Regions from separate parts of the Homo sapiens genome. Here region 2 is linked to region 1. The links come from fine-mapping of genetic effects on gene expression. Tissue or cell type: NK cells. Region 1 holds a variant in brackets; the other region holds the start of a gene. All regions are shown on one strand. Distances are between the middles of the regions.

Region 1 (2,681 bases):
CCATTGTCTATGAATGGGACAAGAACTTGAAGCCTATCAAGCCCATGCAGTTTCTGGGGGATGAAGAGATGGTACGCAAAGCCATGGAAGCTGTGGCTGCCCAGGGCAAGGCCAAGAAGTGAAGGCCAGCAGGGAGGATACTGTTCCCAGGAGCACCCTCCCTGCCTGTCTTGTCCCTCTGCCCCTCCCACCTGCACATGTCACACTGACCCCATCTGTAGACATCTTGAGTTGTAGCTGCAGATGGGGACCAGTGACTCCCATTTTCATTTTAGCCATTTTGTCTCCTGCACCCACTCCCTTCATACAATCTAGTCAGAATAGCACTTCTAGAGCACAGGTTCTCAGTCCAAGCTGTGGAAAAGCTCCCCTTATCCAACAGAGTTTAAAAGTAGTGACTTGGGTTTTTGCGAGTTGCTTTGTTTACTAAGGACTTGTGGGGAGGAACCATGCTAAGCCATGACCAATGAGGAGAAGCAACAGAGCCTGTCTGTCCCCAGGAGCCAGTCCTCTGCTCGTCTGCAGTCAGGCCACTGCCTGAGGGCTCTAGTCATTCCAGTGGAAGATGAATGTAACCTGCATGGTGATGTGACAACTGTTTCCTCCCTGACGCCAGAGGAGCTGGCTCTAGAAGGTTGGGATCAATCCTGAATTTAGTTATGTGTTACATTTAATTTAAGAAGTATAGTATATATAAATAATACAAAACAATAACCCTTCTGGGGTTTCTCGTGGCGGTTGAAATAGTCCCACATGTAGTCATCAGAAAATAAGCCATTCCTCATACCAATATAGGATCAGCTCCTTGACCTCTGAGGGGCAGGAGTGCTTCCTGGTGTGGGTATTACAATCCCTTCCTGCCTTGTTTCGTGACAGTGAAATGCCTCTTGGTCCTGTCCAAGTATGTCTTTCACTGATTTCTGAATCATGTTCTACTTGCTTGGCCCTGCCACATGGGTCCAGTGTTCATCTGAGCATAACTGTACTAAATCTTTTTCCAGATCAGTATAATAAAGGAGTGATGTGAAAAAAAAAAAAA[AG/G]AAAGAAAAAAAGAAATTAACCCTTTTGAGTCCTCATGTCTCTTGGGGGAGGGGGGTTGTTTATTATAATTACAATATTATATTTGACTGTAGCTCAAGGAAGGGATCAAGTCTTATTCCTAAGTAAACCTGGCCCTGAAGGCATTTCTAGACTAAATAAAGAGCTGTCTTCCATTCAAGTTTTGTTTCCCAATATGTTCCTGGCCTTTTTTTTTTTTTTTTTTGAGACAGAGTCTCACTCTGTCGTCCAGGCTGGAGTGCAGTGGCATGATCTCAACTCGCTGTAACCTCCGCCTCCACAGTTCAAGCAATTCTCCCACCTTGGCGTCCCGAGTAGCTGGGATTATAGGCACCTGCCACCATGCCTGGCTAGTTTCTGTATTTTTAGTAGCAAAGGGGTTTCACCATGTTGGCCAGGCTGTTTTTGAACTCCTGACCTCAAGTGATCCACCCGGCTCAGCCTCCCAAAGTGCTGGGATTACAGGTGTGAGCCACCACGTTCGGCTCCCTGGCCCTCTTCTAAGGGCTGCAGATACCTCATCTCATTTAATCCCATCTAGACTGTGTAGATCTCATCATCCATAGGCATGGATAGCACAGAGATGAAACTGAGGCTCAGAATAACTGGCCACCAATGGGAAGGGGCCAAGCTGTTACAGAGCCTGTGCTCACATGTTGTAACCCTGGTAGATACCCCCTCCCCACCCCAACCTTGGGTCAAGGAACCAGGCCAGGACCTAAGCACAGTTGGTGTCCTGTGGACATGAATTTATTAGAGGGGACTGGCACCAGAGTGGGCACAAGCTGCAGGCTGGGAGGAAGGGGCAGGGGTGGGAGCACAGCCAATGGTGTGTCAGTCAGTGGGCCAGCAGGCGTGCTGTTCTTCACCCTGCAGAGCTTCAGTGCCCAGGGCGTGCCGGAGGCTTTGGGAAGACTGGGGAGAGGAAAGAGTGAGGCTCAGAGAAGAAACCTGCCAAGCTCACACGGGAGGGGCAGCACGTCGACCCCAGGCCCATGGCCCTCTCTCTCATATTGTTGGTCCTCACTCCTGCCTCCCAAGCTCCCACACCAGCCCCCAGCTCCTGTCCCATCCTGCACTCACTGCGGAGGGAGTAGGTGCCTGGTTCCAGTTGCATCTGGGGAGGCAAGACGATGAGAAAGTCCCCACCCCAGGCGTTTTTGACCCTTGAGAGATAATTTTGGGAGGGAGGGCGATGACATTCAGAGGTCAGAGAAGGGCACTTGGATGACACAGGCTTAAGCAAGTGGCTGCTGCAGTGCTGGGGCAAACCACAGGGGGAACAGTGGGGCGGCGAGAGGCCAGGGCCCCGGGGAAGGCGAACAGGGACCTGTGGACAGACCCTCTGAACCCCACCATGGTGGGGGCGCCGGTCCCGAGTCCAAGCCCAGTGGAATGGCTCCTTTGCCATGACCTGGGAGGAGCAGAGTGGACAGTAAATGGGGTGGGAACCCCAGCCTTCCCCACACCCCAGGTTGCCTCCCAGCCTCACCTCCTCACAGCACTGGCGGCTCACAACAGCCCGGAAACCCATCCGTGCCCAAAGCTTATCCCTCTGGTGCAGGAATTTCCCCACTCGTAAACACCAATCTTTTCCCAGGGCCCATGGAAAAATCTCACAT
Region 2 (2,681 bases), 88 kb before region 1:
GCTGGGATTACAGGCGTGAGCCACCACACCTGGCTAGTCTTCTTTTAAAAAGAGAAGGACCGAGCCTGCTGGCTTATGCCTGTAATCCCAGCACTTTGGAAGGCCAAGGTGGGTGGATCACTTGAGGTCAGGAGTTCGAGAGCAGTCTGGCCTACATGGTGAAACCCCTTCTCTACTAAAAGTACAAAAAAAAATTAGTCGGGCCTGGTGGCGGGCGCCTGTAATCCCAGCTACTTGGGAGGCTGAGGCAGGAGAATCGCTTGAACCTGGGAGGCGGAGGCTGAAGTGAGCCGAGATTGCACCACTGCACTCCAGCCTGGGTGATAAAACAAGACTGTCAAAAAAAAAAAAAAAAAAAAAGAGAGAGAGAGAAGGCACTGGGCATGAAGACTTGAAGTATTCTGGTTTCTGAAAGGAATTTCTCACCATAAATTAACGTTTCGTTATCTTTTTGTATATAAGAAGTTCAAAGTGTTGAGTGGTTAAGGCAGGTGCACATTCATACCGATTCTAGAACTTCCACATCTCCCAGGCTTTGCTTCAAATGACTCCTTACACTGCTCTACAGCTTGACCAACACGATGGACCCGTATGATGCAGCACGGGACTCCAAGGCAGGACACCTGGCTTCACAGACAGCTCAGGCAATTAGCTTTCCTTGTCTGTTTCTCCATCTGTAAAGCTCCCTAAAGCTCCTTCCACAGCTCAAATTCAATTTTAGGAACCTACCTCAAGGGATTCATATTTGCACAGACCACCAACAGCTATGATAAAATAACTGATGGATCAGCAGAGGTTTAAGGTGTAGGCTGGAAAGGGAGGAGCCAAGAATAAAAAGCTACATTTCAAAACCCCCACATCTGTTGCTTTGTTACCGGGGCTTCAACAATTTCCAAACTCAGGTGCCACCAGTGCCTAGTCTCTATCTAGCACATCCCAATTCCGCCTTTCGGGAACTTCGAGTTGGTTTAAAATCGTGCTGCATATTCCTATTTTTGATTTGGCATCCAAGCGGTACCCGGTGGGCATTTCAAAGTCCCCACATCCTAAATCTCAAAACTCAAGTTTGATTCTTCATCTCACAGCCACCGAGAACTCTGCTCCAGGGGAAGTGGAAATTGGAAGCGCTCCACTTTCGGTTCTAGGCGCCGAGGAACTCGGGCGAGAGCGTGGAGCACGGCTGCAGGGCGGGAGGGGTGCGGGACTCACATTTCTCAATTAGAGCCTCCTCGCAGTCTAGGCCGAAGATCTGCAGCTCCTCCGCCAGCTGCTGGGCGGATGCGGACATGGTCGCCCAAGCCAGGGGCCGGGGAGCCGGCCCACCCAGCTCCGACCTGCGCCCAAGAAGCCCACGGGGGTGGCGAGCGATGAGCTCCTCGCCCTCTTATCCTTCCCCCCTCCGCGGACCGTGACAGGAGGTGACTGGCCCAAGCAAGACCTCAGACCGTCAGAAGGCCCCGGCCGTCGGTCACAGAGAAATACTTTTTTTAAAAAATGAAGGGGTGGCTCCCAAACGCCCTGAATGGAGGGAGCAGAAATCTCGAGAGGACGCTCTCCTGGTGAGAACGTCCTGCTTCCCAAAAGCTACCGCTGAGCTTCTCAGTGACGGTGGCAGAACTGAGTGGCCGGAAAAACCCGCCAAATGGTTTGTGCAGTGCACGCATGCGCGAAACCGGGAGCCAACCCCAAACCTTCCCCTTGCTTTCCCCGGCTCATTCCGGAACCCCACGCGCGCACGCGCGGCCCAGGGCGCGTGCGCATCAGCGGGCGTGTGGGCGTCTCTACGCACGCGCCTGGCGGCCCGCCAGTCAGCAGCTGCGCAGTTCTCTCTCACGGCGCGAGAATGCCGGTTGTGACTCGCAACGCCCGGGAGTTGCCTACAAGGAAACTGAGTCTGTGTGCGGATGCCTGTTTTCTGGGCATCGGCTGCTCGATAAAACTCAGTGGCGCATGTTTGTCACCCTTTTGCCCTGTTCCGTGGTGCGCAGGCGTTGTCGTGCGCGTGCCTTCGACTATCTAAAACTTACTGTACCCCCTTCTCCATTCCCCTTGTCATCTCTGCCTGTTGTGCCCTTGGTTCATCCTAAAAGAATGGCTTCAGTAGGGAATCTGGTTGCCATGGTTATTATCGTGCTTATCACCGTGGTGCCAGCCACAGTGATGGGTATGTTTTCTGAATCTGGGGCATTTGGGGGGATATGAGGTGGGAAGGTGACGGATAATTTAGTTTTGGACACGTTAAGTTTGAGTGCCTCTGGGATTTCCAGGTAGAGATTCCCAGTGGGTGACTGGAGGCTTGGGAGTGAAGGTAGGTCACTCAAGGATAGAGTTTAGGGGTAAGATGAGAAGAGGGTTCTCCCCTTGAAATACACCGTAATTCTTTGAGCCAAAAATCTCAACCGTAGGCGTCATACAATGCTGGTGGGATGGTATAGAGCGTTTCGAGAAAACAATTTAGCAATATGTATCAGGAACCTTTAAAATGTCCATCCCAGGCCAGGTGCGGTCACTCACGCCTGTAATCCCAGCATTTGGGAGGCCGAGGCAGGCGGATCACTTTGTAGCAGGACGAGCCACAGACAAAACTCCTCAGACACCCGAGTTAAAGAAGGAAGGGGTTTATTCGGCTGGGGTCATCGGCAAGACTCCTGTCTCACCAGCCGAGCTCCCCGAATGAGCAA

Which allele goes with the higher level. Positions count from the first base shown, and alleles are read on the strand shown. Sizes are in standard deviations (SD) of each study's normalised expression.
For the expression in NK cells of the gene that starts at base 1,619 in region 2, allele AG in region 1 goes with a lower level than allele G (small effect, 0.34 SD a copy in Gilchrist 2021).

The links. PIP is the estimated chance that this variant, and not a neighbour inherited with it, causes the effect.
Region 2: POLA2 starts here. The variant in region 1 is fine-mapped to the expression of POLA2 in NK cells (Gilchrist 2021, PIP 0.95).

The regions. Positions count from the first base shown.
Region 1 is chr11:65,172,476-65,175,156 of GRCh38, reverse strand. SPDYC (speedy/RINGO cell cycle regulator family member C) reads right to left here. Exons shown (of 7, transcript NM_001008778.3): 5 at 2,552-2,681; 6 at 2,143-2,473; 7 at 1,783-1,974. The coding sequence ends at 1,940. It also overlaps the pseudogene PGAM1P8. Among named protein-coding and RNA genes, the nearest start is that of SPDYC, 3.6 kb to the right of the region's middle. The variant AG/G (reference allele first, on the strand shown) is at 1,040.
Region 2 is chr11:65,260,900-65,263,580 of GRCh38, reverse strand. It overlaps POLA2 (DNA polymerase alpha 2, accessory subunit), which reads right to left and starts at 1,619. Exons shown (of 18, transcript NM_002689.4): 1 at 1,210-1,619. The coding sequence starts at 1,288. RefSeq lists enhancers at 708-1,593, 1,350-1,599, 1,594-2,481.